Homo sapiens: one gene and its partners. The protein of the gene in region 1 interacts with the protein of each later gene in a pairwise test. Each region holds a gene or a part of one and is shown on either strand. Other genes may lie near its edges.

Region 1 (3,500 bases):
GTGATGTGTATCATAAACAAAACATTGATACTCAAAAAAGTGAACTTCTTATAGAGATCAGTAAGAAAGTTCACTTTAAAAATGGGTAAGGGCAATTCAGAGGAAAGTGTCCACAAAAAGGAAAAAGTTCAACTTCACAAGTAATCAAGCCATAGTACCTTTATTTATGAGTCTATAACTGGAAATACACAAAAGTCTATCAACACATGAATGGATAAACAAATTGTATCATATTTACACAATAGAATATTACTTAGTACTAAAAAGAACAAATTACTTACAGCAACCACATAGTTGAGTATCAACATTTGTATCTAAAAGAAGGCTCTGGTTCATTTACTCCACCCTGTTTATCCCACAAAATCCTGCTATTAAACTGAGAGAATACATGGACTAGCTATTTGAAGGCTCTTACATAAAAACAGCGACGTGCAGATTGGAGAAGACCAGAATTCAAAGCACCACCAAACTGGTGGCGTGTTTCCTGCTTTTCCTGCAGTATCGCCTGGCCTAACCTCAAGGCAGGACTCAAGAAACATCTGACAAAATTCAACGCAAATTCATGATAAAACTCTCAGAGAAAGAGCAATAGAGGGGAACTTCCTCAACTTGATAAAGAACATCTACATAAAAAACCCTGCAGCTAACACTGTACAGAATGGTGAAAGAACGAATGCAGGGAACAAGGCAAAGCTGTCCGCCGTCTCCACTCCTATTAAATATCGTACCAGAAGTGAATTCAGAGTCAGCACAACAAGGCAAGAAAAAGAATTAGGAGGCATCCTGATTCACAAGGAAGAGGTCAAACTGTCTCCAATCATAGACATCTTTGTCTACATAGAAAATTTCATAGACTTCAACAAAAAACAAAAACTCCTAGACTAAAAAAGTGAGTTTAGCAGGGTCACAGGACACAAATTCACACAAAACCAACTGAATTTCTATATGCTAGCAATTTGAACTGGAAATGAAAAATGTTTAAATGATTTACAACAATGGGTGCAAAAAATAATTAAATATTAGGTACAAATCAAATAAAACATACAGGATCTGTATACTGAGAACTACAAAATGCTGAAGAAAGAACTCAAAGACAACCTAAATAAATGGAGAGACACATCATGTACATGGAATGGAATACTCAACACAGAAATGATGCCCAGTTCTCTCCAAATTATCCATAGATTTACTGCAATCCCAAATCACAAATCCCAGTAGGATTTCTTATAGATACATAAATAAGCCGGTTCTAAGATTTATATGGAAAGGCAAAGGAACTGGAATCACCAAAATGAATCTGAAAAAGAACAGAGTTGGGGAAATCACACTACCTGATTTAAGATTTACTATAATGCTACAGTAGTCAAGACAGTGTGTCATACTGAAGAAGAGATAGACACACAGACCAACAGAACAGAATAAAAAGTACAGAAACGGACGTGGACAACTACAACAAACTGATTTTTCACAAGGGGGCAAAAGTAGTAATGGTGGTGGTGAAGTCCCCTGGGTGGCCCAGGCCAGGATTGCGAGGTGACTTCCTGCTCTCCTTGGCATTACTGGGGGACTGCACTGCAGGGGCAAAGCAACACCAGAACTGGGAAAAGCAGCCTCTCCCGCTGCAAGGTCCCTCCAGCGCCCTCTACTGACAAAGCTCAACATCCTACTTCCATTGCAGCACAACAAGTAGAGGGAGCCGAATAAACTGAAAACTGGCAAGCGTTGCTGCTGGGCTCTGAAAGCTGCAAAAAGTGCTGGAAATGATCTACAGCTTGGTAAGAAAAAGCAACTACATTCATAAAGACGTGAAGGAAAAATTTCACTGTTCACAGATGGCATAAAAAGATTTTATAGACAAAACCCAAAAGAATCCCAGACAAGACTTTTTTAACAAGGTGGCTGGCTGAAAGAGCAACATAAAATATCAACTGTATTTCAACACACTAGCATGAATCAGAATGTGTAGTTTTAAAAATCGTATCATCCACAAGAGCAACTAAAGTTATAAGGTATCCAGGAATAAAACTGAATCACAGATGTACAAGATCTATACGGAAAAATAATAAAAAGTCTATTCAAAGGCATTAAAGAAGACCTAAATAATTGGAGAGAAAGCCCGTGTTCACAGATAGAATACTCAATATCATAAGAGATATCTACATGGTTCCAATGCAATTCCGATAAAAATTTCAACAGGATTTTTGAAAATAACTGACAAGTCTGATCTAAAATTTAGATGAATGAGCAGAAACACAAAAGTAGCTGCAACACTCCTGAAGAATAAGGTGGAGGAATTTGCATTACCAAATATTAAGCTTTAGTACTGTCATAAAGATCGAAAGTTGACCAGTGGAACAGAACACAGAAACCAGAGTCACAGCCACACATACATGGGTTCTGATATATGAAAGAGACAATGCTGCAAATGTTGGGAAAGGGAAGAATTATTCACTAAATTCTGCTCAATTATCAGTATGGAAAAAAGGAAACTGGATCCCTATGTCAAACTATAACTTGTGATATAACTGATCTCCCAACATTATGCTTGCCTCCTGCTCTCACTCCCCTGGTGACAGATAACATGAGTGCCTGCCACAGATTCTCCATGTCTCACCTCTGCAGCAAAGCAGTGTCCCTGTACCCCTTGAATATTGGAATTATCCAACCCCAAAATCTCATTTTGAGGTGCCTTTCTGGAGACATTTTCAATACCAATTATTTCTGTCAGGGCCCCAAAACGAAACAGAGGACACACTCAAATTAAGACATTTCAAAGCAATATTAAAATGTTTATGAAGTTTGGGGCAGCATATAAGGGAAACCACAGGGATAGAGATGTTACTGCACTTCCACCTGAAGGGTCAAGGGGAAGGAGAGAGAGGTGTGAGGAGGGGCCCCACCTTGCAGGGAGTCTGACCTGTCTAGCAACAGAGCCAGCACGTAACAAGCCCACAGGGAAGCAGCCAACAAAAGTGAGGCTTGGGCAACAAAGGAGATGCAACTTGCACCATGTTTCTGCAGAACTGTGCTTGGGAGTCCTGAGGTCATGGTAGTGTGAGGAAGCCTATACTGGCACAGGGACCACATGGAAGAGCACTGAGACTATGGACAGGGGGGAAATAAGGAGAGGAGGAGGGAAGACAAACAGAGACAGAGACACAAAGAGGCCCCACAAGTCCAGACCTACCCTAACCCTCTGATCATCTGGCCTGTAACCACATGAGACTCTGATCCACAAGCACCTACCTTAACCCTCCCCAAACTCCTGTAACCATGAGAGAGAATAAAGTGATCATTATTTGAAGCCATTAGGTTTGGGGGAATTTGTCATGCAGCAATACCACACTCAACCCAGCTACAGCCAGTTACCAGCTTCCCTCTTCGATACATTTGATTTTCACCTGACCTATCTGCAAAACTCACTCCAATCATGGTGCTAATGCAGAACTTACCTTGCAAAAGTGAGGGTTGCCAACTGTGGGAAGAGACAAACGGCTGTG
Region 2 (3,500 bases), on another chromosome or scaffold:
TCTAAAGACTTGACTTTATTCAAAAGAGAGGGTAAGACCAAGACTTGGGTACAGGCAGTTTGAGAGGTGATTCCAGGAAGCAGCAGAATACAGGGGAGAGAGAGACCAGAAGCAGCAGAAGTAAGACAGGGCATGTTATTGATCTTTTTACACCTGTGGGCAACTGGATTTGTTCTGTTAAGGACCAGGAACCATGTAGGGACTCCTATACCCCATTGGATAAGGGTTGCATGAACTCCCTTGCATTTCCATGTTGAGTCTTGAGTGCTTGTTGAGACAGTGGCAGCAAACAGGGAACCCTCTGATACTTTTCAAACATAGCTGCCCCGAAATCAGAGGTAGCGTAATGTGGGGCACACACACACAAAAAGCATGTTTCAGTGACCTTTAAAGTGTCAGTATGACCTTTTGGATTTAAATAATTTGAAATATTTTAATCCATGATAATGAGTGATGATGTTACTGATGCTCAAATATTCCTATTTTTGCTAATGGTGGAACTTCTTAAAGTTGGATCCTGAATTCTTTAGGCAAATTAAAAAGCCCTATGACTTTATAGCTCCTTTACATGACAAGATGTTTCAGGTCAAGCATTGCACAAAATATCAACCAAGCAAAAGATCGTTCTTTTCTCTTGCTTCTGACTCCCTTGTATGGCAGAGGGACAAGAAGATAGGGGCTGTGGAAGCTGATGCTGGTGTTCACTACCTAAGAATTGCCAGGAACACATCTTGGCTTTAAGGAAGAACAATTTCATATGGAAACAGTGAAGTTACTTGTTCAAAGATACATAGTACAGTTATTCTAAACTTTTTTTTGGCTTCCTGAACATGCCTTGATCTAATTGGAAAATGCTTAGTAGTGACCCCAGTGGTTTTCCAGATAACTTTTCTGAATATCTTCACTCATCTCCCCTACCACTGTCCTAGGACAGTTCTCTTCATTCAGTAAGGCCTAGAGTTGGCCCTGGTGGTATTTGACATAAGGTAAGTGTATTGATTTATTTAGGAAGCCTAGAGTATTAGTTAGATGTCAGTGGAAAAGGAGCATATCATCTTCCTATCTCAGTCTTTTTGTATAAAGTACAGTCAACTTAAACATTAAGACCAGAGAAGAAAGGCTTAAAAAAATAGGAACATGTAGCCTTGAGCAGAAGAAATTTGGGGAAATGCTACTCATTTTGTTTGATCATGGTTTGGGAACTTTTATTGTATGTGATCCACAGATCTCTTAGCTTGTGCTATTCAGGCCACTTTCTCTGTGACTGTTAATGTATCTGGTTTTCATGACAGTTTAAGGAACCTCCAAAGCCTGGGACAATTGCCTCAATTCATTGTACCCTAGGGATGGCTCTGATATATAATTATTCTAACTGGAATACTGGTTAGGTGCCAATGAGTAACACAGTGGGAAATAACATAGGCTTTTATAATTAGATAAGAGTTGAATAGATACAGTTAAATCTTGGCTTCACAACTTGGCTGAGTAATCTTGGGAAAGATACTTAGCCTCTCTTAGCATGTGATTCTGTGTAAATTGAGGATGATGCTAATACCTCCTTTTGGCAGCTTCTGCTTTTATCTCACTTTCCCCTTATATCTGTTTTCAGCAATTTTAAATTCCCCAGCTCTCAGATACAACTCCAACAGCAAAAGTAGATTTCTGAATGTATTGTGGAGAGATTTATACAAGAATTGTATAACCCTTAGACTTTTTTTTTGTTCTGTGTCAGAATTTTTCCTTCCCGGGTAGCAACTTCCCTCTCTAATTCTCTTCATCCCTTTAAATTCTCTAAAATATACATATATATTATATATATATTTTTATATTTGTTTCCTCGAGTAATTTGGCTTTGCCCATCTGGCAAAACTTCACTTAGACTGCTCTTCTGGTATTCCTGAAGCATGCACCTTGGCATACGGGGAGGTTTGAGGTTGGGGCTGGAAGGAGGAGCAAGAAGCATCTTGTCAAATGCCTCACAGCTTATATTTGAATTTTTAATGTAAACAGGTCTACAACAGGATTCTAGACTGTTTAACTTACTGATCATATATATATATATATATATATATATATATATATATATATAATTTTTTTTTTTTTTTGGGAGACAGAGTCTCACTCTGTTGCCCAGGCTGGAGTGCAGTGGCATAGTCTCGGCTCACTGCAAGCTCTGCCTCCCAGGTTCACGCCATTCTCCTGCCTCAGCCTCCCGAGTAGCTGGGACTACAGGCGCCCGCCACCACGCCTGGCTAATTTTTTGTATTTTTAGTAGAGACGGGATTTCACTGTGCTAGCCAGGATGGTCTTGATCTCCTGACCTCATGATCCGCCTGCCTTGGCCTCCCAAAGTGCTGCGATTACAGGCGTGAGCCACTGTGCCCAGCCTATATATATATTTTTAAAAAACCAGCTTTTAGGCTGGGCATGGTGGCTGATGCCTGTAATCCCAGCACTTTGGGAGGCCAGAGCAGGTGGATCACCTGAGGTCGGGAGTTCAAGACTAGCCTGGAGAAACCCTGCCTCTACTAAAAATACAAAATTAGCCAGGCATGGTGGCGCATGCCTGTAATCTCAGCTACTCAGGAGGCTGAGGCAGGAGAATCACTTGAACCTGGGAGGCAGAGGTTGTGGTGAGCCGAGATTGCGCCATTGCACTCCAGCCTAGGCAACAAGAGCAAAACTCTGTCTTAAAAAACAAACAAACAAAAAAAAGCTTTTATTAAAGATACTAATTAAAATCGGACTTCATTATGTTTTAAGTATCTCAAGCTATAAATCCTGTGACTACATATTTTATCTCGAATGGTTGACTGGTTTACTGCTTGTTATTTTATATGCATTAAAGCATTTATTTACTAGTGTATCTGTTAGATAAGTCCTGGTAAAGAGGACAGAAAGTAGTATGCTTCTCCCAACAGTTTATACTATACTGGGGAGTAAACATGTAAAGAAATGAAGCCATGGAATACATATTAAAGTTGTATTCATTTGTAATTTCAGTATCCATATATTCCTGCACATATTACAAAGCCTAAGGAACATAAGAAGTTGTTTCTGGTTCAGCTTCAAGAAAAAGGTAAGTTATTTTGTTTTCAAAGGTAGCCATCTAAAAATTCTGTAGAATAATTTCAAGGATACCTCTATTTGTGTTTTCTCAAAGTTCCTTGAACTTTTGGGTTTGTTGTAAAACTAAAGATGTATACCATGCTTTTAGTTTCAAATCTGTGGCTAGGAAATCTACCTTGAAAGACACAACCAAAATGTATTAATGAGAATTATCTTTTTTCTTACACTTTTTATTAAATGTAAAATTGGTAATTTAAAAATGAAATGGAAGCAGTGATTATATAATAACTTATAATAATGAATTCTGTTTTATTTTAGCCTTGTTTGCAGTCCCTAAAAATTACAAGCTGGTAGCTGCACCATTGTTTGAATTGTATGACAATGCACCAGGATATGGACCCATCATTTCTAGTCTCCCTCAGCTGTTGAGC
Region 3 (3,500 bases), on another chromosome or scaffold:
AGTAGTGGTCAAGGACCACTTTTCTGTACCTGTTTACTTAAGAAGCAATATACTAAAAATTTTGAGTGCATCCCAACTGCCTTAACACCAAGCTGCCTGAGCCTCTGCCTAGCACAAGGGAACTACTTGTAGGTGGAAGGCAATGAAGAGGGAGGGCCCTGGGGCCACAAGCGCAGTTCAACTACTTGCTAGCTGTGTGAACTTGAGGAAATTACACAACCTCCCTGAGCCTCAGTTTAATGCTATTACACATGCAAAGCACTTAGAACACTGGCACAGAGTAAGTGTTCAATAAATGTTAACTGATTTTGCCCTCCTGATTATAACTCATATACTTATCTCCTCTCACCCCCGACCTGAGCACTGCCCACATGCCAACAAGCATGTGGCTTTGGCATCTTTCAGAATGCAAGCCCCTGGAGGGCATGAATCAAGGTCCCTATGTGTCCTCTCCTAGGGCTCATACTGTTAGACTGGAGCCACAGAAGTTTGGGAACCAGACTTAACACCTTTGTAGAAAAGTTCCTACCTAATGGTACGGATTTGCTCAAAACATTTTTGCTATATGAACTCCATATATGGTAGATCTGTTTATTGTGCTCAGATAATTTTTATCTTATAAATTATTAAGAAAGGAATATTTAATATGACTGCCTAATCCACTCGACATTTAGACTAAAAAGTGACCTACATTATCACTTTAAAGTTAGTCACAATAAATACAACTTACAATGTTCATAGATATTCAGGGTTAAAAACAACGAAACAATGTACTTTTTTTTTTATCAATAAAGAAGTTCAGTTCACAGATAACTGAACATAATATGAAATCACAAATGTACCTTCACTCCTCTTTTCAAGTAGGATCCTTTACAATTTCATAGTGCCTGTGGGCTCTACCCTTTGTAGCACATCATGGGTTTCTATTGTTGGTTAGTTAGCTGGTTTTTATCCTGCAAATGGTGACAGATTTGTGATGATCAACCCAATTCTCTCACCACATCTTCCCCACTGAGACATACATTTTTATGATGGCAGATACAGCCTATAACCAAGAAACTAAATAGGTCAAGTCCACCAGTCTATACAAAGAAATCTTATTAAACTAACCTATCAAATCTAATCTTATTAAATCCCAAACACTGGCAGGGCACGGTGGCTCACTCCTGTAATCCCAGCACTTTGGGAGGTCGAGGCAGGTGGATCACCTGAGGTCAGGAGTTTGAGACCAGCCTGGCCAACATGGTGAAACCCCGTCTCTACTAAACATACAAAAATTAGCTGGGCATGGTGGTGGGCACCTGTAATCCCAGCTACTTAGGAGGCTGAGACAGGAGAATCACCCCATTGCACTCCAGCCTGCATGACAAGAGCAAAACTCTGTCACAAAAAAAAAATAAATAAATAAAAAATCCCCAACACGGTACAGTAGTTTCCCCTCATCCATGGGGGATATATTCCAAGTCCCAGTGGATACCTAAAACCACAGATAGTACTGAGCTATCATAGAACTAACTAACATAGCACAGAGCACACTATATTTTTTCCTATACACACACACCTATGATAAAGTTTAATGTGTAAATTAGGCATAGTAAGTGATTAATAATAACTAATAATAAAAGTGAACAATGATAACAATATACAGTAATAAAAGTTATATGAATGTGGTCTCTCTCTCTCTTAAAATATCTTATTGTACTTTACTCACTTATTTTGAGACCTCGGTGGACCATGGTTAACTGAAACCTTGAAAAGTAAAACCGTGGATGGGAGGGTGGAGGCTACTATAAACAAATGCAATGAATATTAATTGACAATTAGCATCCAAGACTAATCAACCATTTTTACTTGTCACATTTTCAAGTCTAAGTTTATATTTTAGTTCACAATAAAACACACAAAATGAGAGAAATGTACTAGAAAGCAAAGAAGCACATCAGAAGCTACCCCCTCCCCTATGTGCCTTACTTAACCTGTCCTGCCACAGGTTCCTCTAGAGCCACACGACTGCCAGTCCTGCAGTCAAGGAGGATATTACAGCTGAGGGTTCATCCCGCATGACTTTCAGGGCCATGCAGAAAGTAAGGGCTCCATAAATATTTGTTGAATAGATAAATTATTCAAATGGGTTTTATTTTCGTAGCTTTTAAAAGATTCTTAAAAGAGTCTTGTGACTTCCTGCTTGTTGATTACAACTCCCAGTATTTCCATAAATTGAGACTAGTTTAAAAGGTATTTCAATACCACTAAGCAGTAACAGTCATTCTACAGGAGGTATAAAAGTAACATCAGCAACATAATCACAATACGTTAACTTTTTTTTTTTTTTTTTGTCTTGAGACGGAGTCTCACTCTGTCGCCCAGGCTGGAGTGCAGTTGTGCGATCTCACTGCAACCTCTGCCTCCTGGGTTCAAGCGATTCTCCTGCCTCAGCCTCCCAAGTAGCTGAGATTACAGGCATGCGCCACGACACCCAGCTAATTTTTCTATTTTAAGTGGAGATGGGGTTTCTCCATGTCAGCCAGGCTGGTCTCAAACTCCTGACCTCAAGTGATCCGCCTGTCTTGCCCTCCCAAAGTCCTGGGATTACGGGCGTGAGCCACCTCGCCCAGCCACACAATACGTTAACATTTTATATTTGAAAAGCAACGTACTGTTTACAAATGGCTTTCCCTCCACTATCTCATTTAATCATCATAGGTATTACACAGAGTACAACCAATTCTACCACTGTTGTTTTGATGGCGCAGAGGGAAAAAAGGTTAATTCCAGATCAATCATCACATGAGTCAAGACAGAAAATTTTGAACTGAAAGGAATCTAGAAGTTGATCTTGTCCAACCTCCCAGGAAAACTCGAGAAATGTGTTTTTCTCTTTCATTTTAACCTGACTATTTTCTCCTACCTTATCCAAAAAGCTCTGCACATTGTGTTACTAGTTCTACCTATGAGAAGAAAGAGTAAGATGCTGGTACTGCCTGTTGGGACAGCAGCTAAATGTTTACCCAGAGACTTGGCAGATGTAAACATGGCCTTTAAACCCCATCATGGAAAGGGGAAAAGTTGTGTGCCCTTCTAGGAAGATTCACTCATCAACTGGAAAACAGAGATTTTTATGTTTAAATTGCCACCCTGGCTAAAAGGATTATATCTTGATCATCTTCAAGTTAAGAGTAAAGGATACATTCTGCATTCCCCTGAACAAAACACCTAATCCAAACAGATTTTATCTTGTCTCAGTTTAAAAACTGGTGAAAAAAAGCAGAATTTTCCTTTCCATTTCATATTCATCTGATTCAACAAATAAAATATCGGGCCCTAACTATTAATACATGCCAGAAACCAAGTCAGGCACCGCACCAGGTGATACATCTAATTGATTAGGATTAGCAAATTTCTATTCTTTCTCTCGACTGAAATCAATAAAACCCTGTCTTAAATATTAAAGTACTATCCCTGTCCCTCACCTTGACTGTCACTTCTGAGAACATTTGTTT
Region 4 (3,500 bases), on another chromosome or scaffold:
TATAGAAAATGAAAATCGTTTCATCTTAAATCATCATAATCATCACTTTCCAACTAACATCATAAACTGACCCACCACCCCCCACACACAAGAAAGAGCAAAAAGGGCCATCCAGGGAACCGCTGAATTTTTTTTTCTTTATTCTCAAAAAAAAAAACAAAAAACAAAAAAACTCCAGGATACATGTGTAGAACGTGCAGGTCTGTTACATAAGTATATGTGTGCCGTGGCGGTTTGCTGCACCTACTGACCTGTCCTCTAAGTTCTCTCCCCTTTCCCCCCACCCACCAACAGGCCTCAGTGTGTGATGTTCCCCTCCCTGTGTCCATATGTTCTCAATGTTCAACTCGCACTTATGAGTGAGAATATGCGGTGTTTGGTTTCTGTTCCTGTGTTAGTTTGCTGAGGATGAGGGCTTCCAGCTTCATCCATGTGCAAAGGACATGATCTCATTCCTTTTCATGGCTGCATAGTGGAATTGCTGAACTTTACAAAAATGACTAGTTCACAGGAGATGCACAATCCAGCAGCTATTTTGTCTTTTTTGCTTCTACGATGTTAATTCGAAGAAATGCCATTTGTCTATTCTGCCTAGGAAGAACCAGCTTAGACTGATGGAAGGAGAAGGCACCAAACATGAGTGCCACATCTCTGCCTCCTTCTCTCTTCCAAAGCCCAGAGACCCTTCTAATGGGCTTTGCTTCTACAAAGAACCCTGACACAATTTATCTCCCAGAAGAGGTGGCTCAAATACTCATGTGCCAAAGCTGGATTATTTCAAGAGACCTCTGCTCGAATGTCTAACTTTAAAAAATGCAGTCCTGATCATTTCCCTCAGACTTTATAGCACAACTTATAAATGACAGTGTTAAAGAATTTTCTACATACATCATTACCAATAATTTTCCCCAAAATTATGCTGACTCCATATTCAGTAGTTGGCCAAATTTATAGGCAGTGACGTAGGTTCCAACCATAACGCCTCCATAAAACCTGTGATGCATTTGATTCTTCTCAAAGGAAAAGTCACATGGGAACTAACAAAGAGATGAAAAGAGATGTGCAAAGCAGACATCACCTGGGCTGGGTCTACTCCTGACACACTTCAGTGACTAAACCATTCTCTCTGATTTGAGGGTTTTCCCATATGAAGACACACAGTACCAATTTCCCGCTTTGGAATTGTTACCCTTGTTGGTTGCCGCCTCCATGGCCACAGGTAACTGCATCAGGTAATCCACCCTCTCCGTGTAGCGGACTTTCCGGGTCTGACAGCACTGAATGCGTTCTTCCACCAAAAAACGAAAAACATCGCTTGGGTTTTCTGAGCCGATGCGGTTCCTCTGAAGGATGGATTGTATCAGGTTAGTAAATGTATGAATATTGAGCCACTAAGACTTAGTAGAAAATGAACTCTAAACCCGGTGTAAACACTTGGCTTTATTAAACATTTCCTCTGGCCATGCCCATTCACCAAAGCACTTTAATAGAAAAACACTGGAATTTATCTAAAGTCCAAAAATGGGGATTGGTAAAATAAAATATAGTTCATCATGGATTACTATTTCAATATTATTAAATTAAAAACCATGGGAGAGAAATTCATGGAATGAGAAGAAAGGAGGAGGAGAAGCCAATCAAAAGAGAAAGGGAAAAAAATAAAGGGCTGCCCTGGAAACATAAAAACATGTACAATATGATTATATAAATACACTCATGTAAATTAGGTACAAATAAAACAGAAATTATGCTCTGTTAACAGATGTGATGATGTGGCAAACATTTAAGTGAAAACACTGCTTACAGAAGAGCATGTAGAGAATTAACATAAGACCTGGAAAGTGATGGGAGGGGCAGATGCCAACCTGTGAACACTGGCTGTTGGCCGGGCACAGTGGCTCATGCCTGTAATCCCAGCACTTTGGGAGGCGGAGGCGGGTGGATCATCTGAGGTCAGGAGTTCGAGACCAGCCTGGCCAACATGGTGAAACCCCGTCTCTACTAAAAATACAAAAAAATTAGCCAGGCATGGTAGTGGGTGCCTATAATCCCAGCTACTCGGGAGGCTTTATTCTAAAAAAAAAAAGTTATCACTAATAAATGATAAACAGAGTTAGAAAAGATCATGGACCTGAGCAGACATGTGAATCAGTAACCCTGAGGCAGACAAGAGAAACCACTGCAGCCTAGTTCTAACAAGGAAACAAACAACAGAAGAATCACTTGAACCTGCAAGGCGGAGGTTGCAGTGGGCCAAGATCGTGCCACTGCACTCCAGCCTGGGCGACAAGAGCAAGACTCTGTCAAAAACAAACAAACAAAAACAAACAAACAAACAAACAAACAAAAAACACTGGCTGGCTGCAGGGCGTGGCATTAAGGGGGATTTTGATGTTCTCCTTTGTGTTTTCTATATTTTCCACAAAGAACACTGTTGTAACCAGGAAAAAAAAAAAAGGCTTTACTCAGGAATTCTCAGTGGCTTTCCAGCTCACACCTGTAATCCCAGCACTTTGGGAGGCCGAGGCGGGTGGATCACAAGGTCAGGAGTTCAAAACCAGCCTGACCAACATGGTGAAACCCCATCTCTACTAAAAATACAAAAATTAGCCGGGCGTGGTGGCAGGCTCCTATAATCCCAGCTACTCAGGAGGCTGAGGCAGTAGAATTGCTTGAACCCAGGAGGCAGAGGTTGCAGTGAGCCAAGATTGTGCCACTGCACTCTAGCCTGGGCAACAGAGCTAGACTCAGTCTCAAAAAAAAAAAAAAAGTTTTTAATGGCATTCGATTCTGATGTAAGCAGACTCATCATCTTTGAGCAGTGGCAGGAGGACACCAAATACCACGCAGGGCTCTTAAGGAACTTTGTCACAAAGACCAGAAAAAAATAAATTGTGAATGGAATAACTGGCAAGCACTCCTATAACACATACAGGTTAAAAGAAGCACAGAGATCCACAAGTGTCTGGAAACTGGAGTGTGAAGAGCAGTCACATCAAGTTGGCTGAGCAGAGAGTTTCCAGGGATCTGATTCTGAACCAGCTTTAACAGGAGAGATTGAAGAAAGAGAGTGGGGAGGCATTCTGATCAAGCCACAGCAGACTGCACTGAGTGGCTCGGCACCCTCTTACAACCCCGCTGAGCATCCGTGAAGACTGACTACTCACCTCTACTAGATTCACCAGGTGCAAGAAGAATTCCTGGGCATCTTGCTGCCTGTTAGAGGAGAATTCCGGGTGGCTCTTGCTTACAAAGGCCTTAAACATGCGCGGAGAGATCCCGTTCTGCTGTGGCTAATGTATAAAAATGAAATGGACTTATGATACTTTCATGCAAATTAACAGCCCTAAGCGGCAAGCAGAGCAGAACCCACCATAAACTCCACTTTCCAGATGAGAAAACTACAGCCCAAAGAAGGTAAATAATGATAGTGGCCAATACTCGCTGGGTGTTTACTATGTGCCAGGCCCTGCACTATGAACCTTATGAAGAACACAGGA
Region 5 (3,500 bases), on another chromosome or scaffold:
TTTTAGTTTTAGTATCCTAATAGAAAATGTTTAGGAGAATGTTTAATAGAAAATGCTTTGGTATTTATAATAATTTAAAACTCAGTAGCATGTAGAAGTCAGTAAATCCATGAAAGAGAATCTTTCGTAATTCAGAGAAGAAGTAAATATCTTACTCCAGATCACTGTCCTTAACTGTTTCTTCTCATTTGTGGTATCTCGTAGTAGCAGAATGGACAGACAGCCCAACCTGTAATATTTACCATTATACCCCAGCACATAGAAGAAGACCAAACTTTTAGAAGGGACTCAGCAAAGATTTGGTGAATGAGTAATTGAGCATTCAGAAGCTGTCTCTGCACTTGTAGGGCAAGCATTTTGTACTAGTGATAGAAAAGCAGGAATTGTAGAGTCACAGACCCAGGGTTGACTTCTGGCGCTCTCATTTACTGTGACTTTGAGCCTTGTTGCATAGCCTGTTTCTGCATCTCAGCTTCCTCACTAGTAAAATGGAGTCGTAGTTTCTGCTTCCAAGAGTGTTTGTGAATATTATATAACTGGCTGTAGTGTTTGAATAAAATACTAAGAAACTTTATTCTTTGTTAGAAATAGTAAATGTGGTACTCTTGAATTACTTTAGGTGGCACTCTGACATTTAAATTAGATATTTTTTATCCATGTGGAAGAAATTTTAAACATGAGTTTTGCAGTCATTTTGTAAACACTGATCGTAAGTGCTAATTCCCTTTTCTTCATTGGCTGTGAGTAGTTTGTTTGAGGAGCAGATTGGAGAGGAGTATATAAGATAAACTGGTTTTCTGCATTTGAAAAACATTGGTGATGATCTGAGGATCAAACTATTATATTATGAAGTGATTTTTCTCCCCTTACCTCTTTTCTACATAGCTTGTCTTTAGCTTCAATGAAAAGCTTTTTGGCTTACTGGTGAAGGACATTGAAGCCATGGATCCTAGCATCCTGAAGGGAGAGCCTGCGACAGGGAAAAGGCAGAAGGTAGCTTTTATTTCTGATCATCTTTACTAGATCATCTTTATAATGTAATTTGTGCAGATTGATTATAATTTTCCTATCTGTTGCTTAGTGATTTTTTTCATATTGTGTACCCTTTTAAGATAGTAGGGAGAAAAAATTGCTTTCATAGCCATCATTGTTATTAAAATATAGCTTAAAATGTATTTATTTGCAGACCTAATATTAATGTAAAATGTAGACGTATATGTACATATAATTTGCTTGAATGCAGATATTTATTGTAAATAAATAATAAGAAACGCATTATTGGAAAGATATAGGCATGGAAATAAGGCATGTAAGAATTGTAGAAGAAAGTTATGAGAAAAGTAAAAGTAGCTCAGATGATAGTCTGGAAGGTTTGCTTTGCCCAGAGAGACCTCATTTCCCCCTCACTTTTGGCCTTGCTTTGAGAAGTCCAGAAGTTTGCTATTAGACTACTAATTATTGTCTTTCTCTACAGATTGAAGTAGGACTGGTTGTTGGAAACAGTCAAGTTGCATTTGAAAAAGCAGAAAATTCGTCACTTAATCTTATTGGTAAGATTTACAGTTTTTAGAAGATTTGAAATGAAGTGGGCCTATTTCTATATGTAACTCAACTACAGTGATTTCCAAATGGGGAAAGGAAAGAGGGGCATCTCTCTTGAGAGAGTTTATCACAGAAGCATGGGGTATTTCCTGTTGGTCAGTTTGCTGATGAAAACGTTTAAAACCTTCATCTGGATCAACTTTGTCCAATAGAAATAGAGTGTGAGCCACATGTGTAATTTTTAATTTCCTAGAAATTGCACTAAAATAAGAAACAAATTAATTTTTTAACTTTTAATTTTGAGATAATTTTAGGTTCACAGATTTGCAGAAATAGCTCAGAGAATTTCTGTATGCCCTTTACCAGCTTACCCTGATGTTAATGTCTTATTTGACATTTTCAAAAGTACAATGATAAGAAATGAACATGGTTTCATTTCTGCTAACTAAACTACAGATTTTATTGAGATTTCACCAGTTTTTCCATTGTGTCCTTTTCTGTTCCAAGATCTAATTTAGGATCCCATATTGCATTTAGTTGTTCTGTCTTTTGAGTTTTCTTCAGTCACTGACAGTTCCTCAGACTTTGTCTTTTATGACTTTGAGAACTGGTCAGTTATTTTGTAGAATGCCCCTCACTTGGTTTTGTGTTAAATGAGATAGCATCATCATTTCTTTTAGTGATTAAGTGATGAATGTGCAGGTCAAGTCTTCCCAGCAGATTCATGGTTCAGTCCTACTCTTGTACTCTAGCACAATTTTTGTCATATTAAAACAATTGCAGCTTATTCTCTGAGAATAGTAACTCACCAGAATAATGTGACATTAACTGGGCATTAATTCTTATTTTTGGTTGATTTAACTATGTTGATGTCTACCCTACTAGAGAGTAGAGGGTTTTCATTGGTTGCACATCATCATGTCCAGGGTCACTTAACAGTCTTTGAGTGCGTGGCCTTTATTTCCTGGTCCACAAATTACCATTCCCCCTTATTGTTTTTTGTTAATTATAAAATATTTTATTTATAAAATATGGATAGGCATTCGAAAACAATTCACACACTGTAAAATTTGGTTCTGTTTTCATAGTTTTGTAATTTGCTTTTTTTGCTTAGCATGTTTCAAACATCTTAAATATACACCTATAACATGATTTTTAATGCCTGTATGTCATTTTATGAAGGTAGGATGTATTTTCCTGTTATTGATCTAGTACATTTATGAAGTGACTTCTTTGTATTTTATTTTTGTGTACCTTTTGTTAAGATATCCCAAGGGAGTTGCATAACTTTCATAGGTATTTCTAAGTAATCCATGGGAAAAAAATTGTGTAGTTAATTGGCATTCAGTAAATTTTGCCCACAAGAGGGCAGTAGAGTGTAAGAAAAAAATATTTTTCATCGCTTTCCAAAGGAAATCTTAAGGCCTCAAAACTCTAACCATAAAATTATCATCTAGTATAAACTTTTAAAAAGCGTTACTTTATTTTTAATTGACAGATAATAATTGTATATATTTATAGGGTACAATTTGATATTTTAATACATGTATACATTGTAGAATGATCAAATCAGCCTAATTAACATATCACCTCAAATATTTAGCATTTCTTAGGATAAACTTTTTTTAATGTGACATTTTCTTCCCTGGTTTTATAAAAACCATATTATTACTTTATTTTTTGTTTATAATAGAGCATACTAAGGTACTTAATTTATTCTTTGTTTGAAATAGTAAATGTGGTTCTCTTGAGTTACTTTAGGTGGCACTCTGACATTTAAGTTAGATAATTTTTGTCCTCTTGAGAATTTTTAAACATGAGTTTTGTAATCATTGAAGTCTTTAGGATGATTTCAGACTTTTGTGTCCAAGTGAAGAGAAAGCAAAGAAGACATCAAACTTGTTCAGTATATTTCCTTAGGCTGAGGGGTTATATGCCCAATTACCTGTATAAGCTTA
Region 6 (4,265 bases), on another chromosome or scaffold:
TCACTTCCAAAGTGGCCAGCTCATCTCACCAGTTATCTTTCTTAATGCCTTATGTTATCTTCCCAACATAAAATGATGCTTGTTACATACAATATAATGAGCTCATTATAATGAAATTAATGACTGTGTATAAGTGAATTTTATAATATTGTAAATGTGTTTTCTTCAAATATTCTTTATCCTGACGATAGAACCAGAACAGAAAAATTAATACTCCCCTCCCTTTTATCAGCTTTACCTAATACCATCAGAAGCTTCACTAAGTAAATGCTTTTTTGTCCTTTTAAAGGAAAGTATTGTCCTTCCAGGGGTAAAATCCAAGGAGGCTTAAGTTAAACTGGGTACTCTATAAATAAGCCACACTTGTTATATAAACTTTTGAAAGCTTATATTTTACTAACTTCTCTATCCTTATAAATGATTAGTCATCTAGTTCCTTGAGTTTTGTTTGTGTTTTAAACTTTAATCTCAATTAAAGCTAAAACTGTTATCTCTCCAGAGATACTGCCAAAATGTGAAAGATCATTACCTAAGAAGTACACATTATTGGTCTATCCAAATAGACTTTTATTTTACCTTGAGCAGTTTTTCCTCTGATACTGTGACCTTGGTATCAGTATGTTTACAAATTATGTCATATTTGTATACAATTAAACATTTATTTATTTATGATTGGTTTTAATTAAACTTTATTTTTTCCTAATATGCAAAATATGCAAAAATCAAAGTTTGATATACTAGTTATATTCTTAATAAATATGAAAATAATATTAAAAACCATGCACCCCTTAAAATCATCCTATGTATTGCCAGTCGATGTCTAGCACACACCTTGGAAAATATTAACATGGAAATTTCCTGCCATGGAAATAAGGGATGAGAATTGGAGTGGGAAAATGTGAAGATAGCCTCTTATAACTTTCCCTCCTATCAGATATGTGCAAAATAATTAAACAAAAATTATTTGTTTACTTTGCCCTGCTTCCTGCAGAAAAGAAGAGAACTCTTAAAATATTTTGATCAGATGAATTTTATAGTCAAGGACTATCCAAAGCATGGAGTAAGATACAACTCTATGTGATGAATTTCTATGTGAGTTTCTATATGATAAATTAATACGCCAAATGAAACAGTTTATTGAAACATGCAACTTTTTTAAAATAAACAAACATCCTCCAGAACCAAAGACTGATGCTGTTAATGCTTTAGACATGTGACATATGTGTGTGTACCTCTGTATGTTTAATTTTCTTTCTTTCTAATCAAGTGACCTGTTCTCGTTTGGTTAAGTTTCAACCACAAGACACCACTGTATGCTTTTTTTTTTTCAAGATACACGTCACAGCACACCAAGAAAAGGGGAACTTCCAGTGTCTGTGGTAACATCACTTGATAAACAGACTCCTTTAAACAGCAAGTGCCTGTCTGCATTCTACTATATAAAGCAGCAGAGACGTTGACTAGCGCATATTTGCTAAGAGCACCATGCGCGCAGCAGCCATCTCCACTCCAAAGTTAGACAAAATGCCAGGAATGTTCTTCTCTGCTAACCCAAAGGAATTGAAAGGAACCACTCATTCACTTCTAGACGACAAAATGCAAAAAAGGAGGCCAAAGACTTTGTAAGTTTGTTCAGAGTCTCACTTTGTGAATTTTAACAAGTTATCTTTAATGGCAGAAGGATTGAGAATGAATGGAAGAGAGTGTGAGCATTTAGTTTAGCCAGATCAGAGGAGTTAATTGCCTGTTGTGAGTAATAAGTAATATTCAGCTGCATTAAAAAATAAATCTTGATATGGCATTAAATTGGGTAGGAGTTTTTCTCTACACAGGCTCATAAAAATGGGTTCTATAGCAAAATGTTGTATCAACCATTTTTAGTATTGCCTTATTCCTTAGAGAAATTTATTCTATGTCTTTTTACAAATAAAATGAATTCTGAAGAAATATGAATATTCACTTTTATGTCTTTTGTAGTGGAATGGATATGAAAGCATACCTGAGATCTATGATCCCACATCTGGAATCTGGAATGAAATCTTCCAAGTCCAAGGATGTGTAAGTACACTAATACACTAAACTATCATTATCATTTACAAGAGAAGCCTATGCATTATCTCTATATCCCAGCAAGGGATAAATACTGCGCACAGTAGACTTCATTTCTTTTAAGTAACATGCCAAATAAAATTAGACTATCAGTACCAATGTAAATTGAATACAAATGTGTACACACACATATTGGACTTTATCTATTTGGATTTTTTCAAATTTTATTGGCAGGTTTTTTTTTTCATAACTATAGTAACTCTAAGGGAAGTTTTGCATTTTGTGAATAAATTTTAACATATTTATTAGAACTACAGTTTCAGTTTGTGAAGTTATCAAAGTGTAACAGCCATTCTTATTTCATTTGTGCTTACATTTTAAAAATTGACTAATGTATGTACATTTTGTCCCCTGCAGACTTTCTGCTGCTGAAGTAATGCAATGGTCTCAATCTCTGGAAAAACTTCTTGCCAACCAAAGTAAGTATAACTATTGAATGTTTCTGGGTTCAGCTAAATACTCTAAAAAATTGAATGGCTTCACTAAATATAGTATTCTGGGTAGGATAGTATGCAAAAGGTTGTATTCTAGTTTGTCTGTAGTTACTGATAACTTCAGCATAGTATGCCTCTTAATAATGCTGACTTAGCACTCAATTCTGCCAACTCCTTTTAGACAAATTTGCCAAGACAATTAGGTATTTTCATAGATCATTATGGAGATAAAATTAAACATTGTGCTGGGATTCTGATATGTAAAAATTTTAAAAGTAAGCCAAATATTTTAATATGTACATTGCCATTTTGAAATCTGCCTAAAGAATGTATTTTTCTACACTTGGATGTAACAAGTATGATTCATTCATTCAATTAATTAAATTATCTTTCATACATTCATCATTCATCTCACCCTTATGTAGAGGACATTGTAGAGGTACCAAGGATTCAAAATCAAAGACAGTCTCTTACTGCCTTGAAGGTGGTTGAGATACATAACATAAATAATTGCATTATTATAACATGATAGTTTTTATGACATAAATATGATAGAAGGATTTTTAAGCACATATAGTCTTGTGGAGATTTTCTGATGAGAGAAGGTAAAGAATGAAATCAGCTTGCCATCCCCTTGTCTTGGGCATTACAATTCTACTGAGATTAGGACCTTTTTCAGAGGTGTAGATGAGCAGTGTGGTCTCTATCTCTAAAGAGTGAGATTATTCTTTTCTCCCCACAGACACCCTAAGGAGCTTTACTTGGGAATCACATTGTTCACTCTAGCTCAGCTGACTTTGTTTATAATTCAGCTAAACAAATAAATGGTATAGATATGGACCATAAATGGTGCCATATAAAAGTCTCAGTGAATGCTAGCAAACATAATTAGTACATCAGGCCTACAGATCATATATAGGCCTAACATTTTCTGGCTAATATAAATTAGATGGGGAAATTATATTTACTAATTATTGTGATGTTAATGCCTTTTGTCAGTGTTTGCTTTCCTAAAATACTCTCTACTCTGGCTAAGATTTGGCATATATAAAAGATGGTTTTATATTCAGTGGAGCAGAATTTCAATTCAAACCGCGGATAGAAGCAAAACAGTTTGGTAGCCACCATCAAGTAGCAATGTGACTATGAATGAGTTTGTCTGGCCCCAGATTCCTCTTCTATGAATGAAGAAATTTCAAATGACTTCTCATCTCTACAATCTATAACACAGCTATTTCAGCAGTAGCTGTCTCTTACCTTTGTATGAATAGGAAGCAATTGTATTTTTCTTACAAATTTCTTCTTCAAATTATTCATTTGTTGGTTCATTTAATTTAATTATCTCCCCACCCACCCCTCGTTTCTTTTTAGCTGGTCAAAATGTCTTTGGAAGTTTCCTAAAGTCTGAATTCAGTGAGGAGAATATTGAGTTCTGGCTGGCTTGTGAAGACTATAAGAAAACAGAGTCTGATCTTTTGCCCTGTAAAGCAGAAGAGATATATAAAGCATTTGTGCATTCAGATGCTGCTAAACAAGTGAGTATTAAGCTTATCATCATCAGTTTCTCCATAAAAGACCCTATATGCAGAAATAACATTTAATATATACAACAAGATAAAATCCTTTTGGGGTATATAATTTTACTTCTACATACTTAGGCATATAAATATAGTTCAGTGCAATGAGAATCTAATTTTCTATATTGGTGAGGGTTTCAGCACA

The links.
Region 2: the proteins of FUNDC2 (region 1) and NUDT21 interact in a two-hybrid assay, tested with the Homo sapiens proteins (one large-scale study listed by BioGRID and IntAct).
Region 3: the proteins of FUNDC2 (region 1) and ARL15 interact in a two-hybrid assay, tested with the Homo sapiens proteins (one large-scale study listed by BioGRID and IntAct).
Region 4: the proteins of FUNDC2 (region 1) and USP13 interact in a two-hybrid assay, tested with the Homo sapiens proteins (one large-scale study listed by BioGRID and IntAct).
Region 5: the proteins of FUNDC2 (region 1) and NSF interact in a two-hybrid assay, tested with the Homo sapiens proteins (one large-scale study listed by BioGRID and IntAct).
Region 6: the proteins of FUNDC2 (region 1) and RGS1 interact in a two-hybrid assay, tested with the Homo sapiens proteins (one large-scale study listed by BioGRID and IntAct).

The regions. Positions count from the first base shown.
Region 1 is NC_000023.11:155,047,344-155,050,843, reverse strand, and holds part of FUNDC2 (FUN14 domain-containing protein 2), read right to left. Parts: intron 1-3,500. UniProt on the Homo sapiens protein: Binds directly and specifically 1,2-Diacyl-sn-glycero-3-phospho-(1'-myo-inositol-3',4',5'-bisphosphate) (PIP3) leading to the recruitment of PIP3 to mitochondria and may play a role in the regulation of the platelet activation via AKT/GSK3B/cGMP signaling pathways.
Region 2 is NC_000016.10:56,434,333-56,437,832, reverse strand, and holds part of NUDT21 (cleavage and polyadenylation specificity factor subunit 5), read left to right. Parts: intron 1-3,003; coding exon 3,004-3,079; intron 3,080-3,387; coding exon 3,388-3,500. UniProt on the Homo sapiens protein: Component of the cleavage factor Im (CFIm) complex that functions as an activator of the pre-mRNA 3'-end cleavage and polyadenylation processing required for the maturation of pre-mRNA into functional mRNAs.
Region 3 is NC_000005.10:54,304,074-54,307,573, forward strand, and holds part of ARL15 (ADP-ribosylation factor-like protein 15), read right to left. Parts: intron 1-3,500.
Region 4 is NC_000003.12:179,740,040-179,743,539, reverse strand, and holds part of USP13 (ubiquitin carboxyl-terminal hydrolase 13), read right to left. Parts: intron 3,294-3,500; coding exon 3,168-3,293; intron 1,344-3,167; coding exon 1,190-1,343; intron 1-1,189. UniProt on the Homo sapiens protein: Deubiquitinase that mediates deubiquitination of target proteins such as BECN1, MITF, SKP2 and USP10 and is involved in various processes such as autophagy, endoplasmic reticulum-associated degradation (ERAD), cell cycle progression or DNA damage response.
Region 5 is NC_000017.11:46,639,169-46,642,668, forward strand, and holds part of NSF (vesicle-fusing ATPase), read left to right. Parts: intron 1-885; coding exon 886-993; intron 994-1,474; coding exon 1,475-1,550; intron 1,551-3,500.
Region 6 is NC_000001.11:192,574,308-192,578,572, forward strand, and holds the start of RGS1 (regulator of G-protein signaling 1), read left to right. Parts: upstream 1-1,465; 5' UTR 1,466-1,485; coding exon 1,486-1,622; intron 1,623-1,977; coding exon 1,978-2,058; intron 2,059-2,466; coding exon 2,467-2,528; intron 2,529-3,914; coding exon 3,915-4,078; intron 4,079-4,265. UniProt on the Homo sapiens protein: Regulates G protein-coupled receptor signaling cascades, including signaling downstream of the N-formylpeptide chemoattractant receptors and leukotriene receptors. Inhibits B cell chemotaxis toward CXCL12.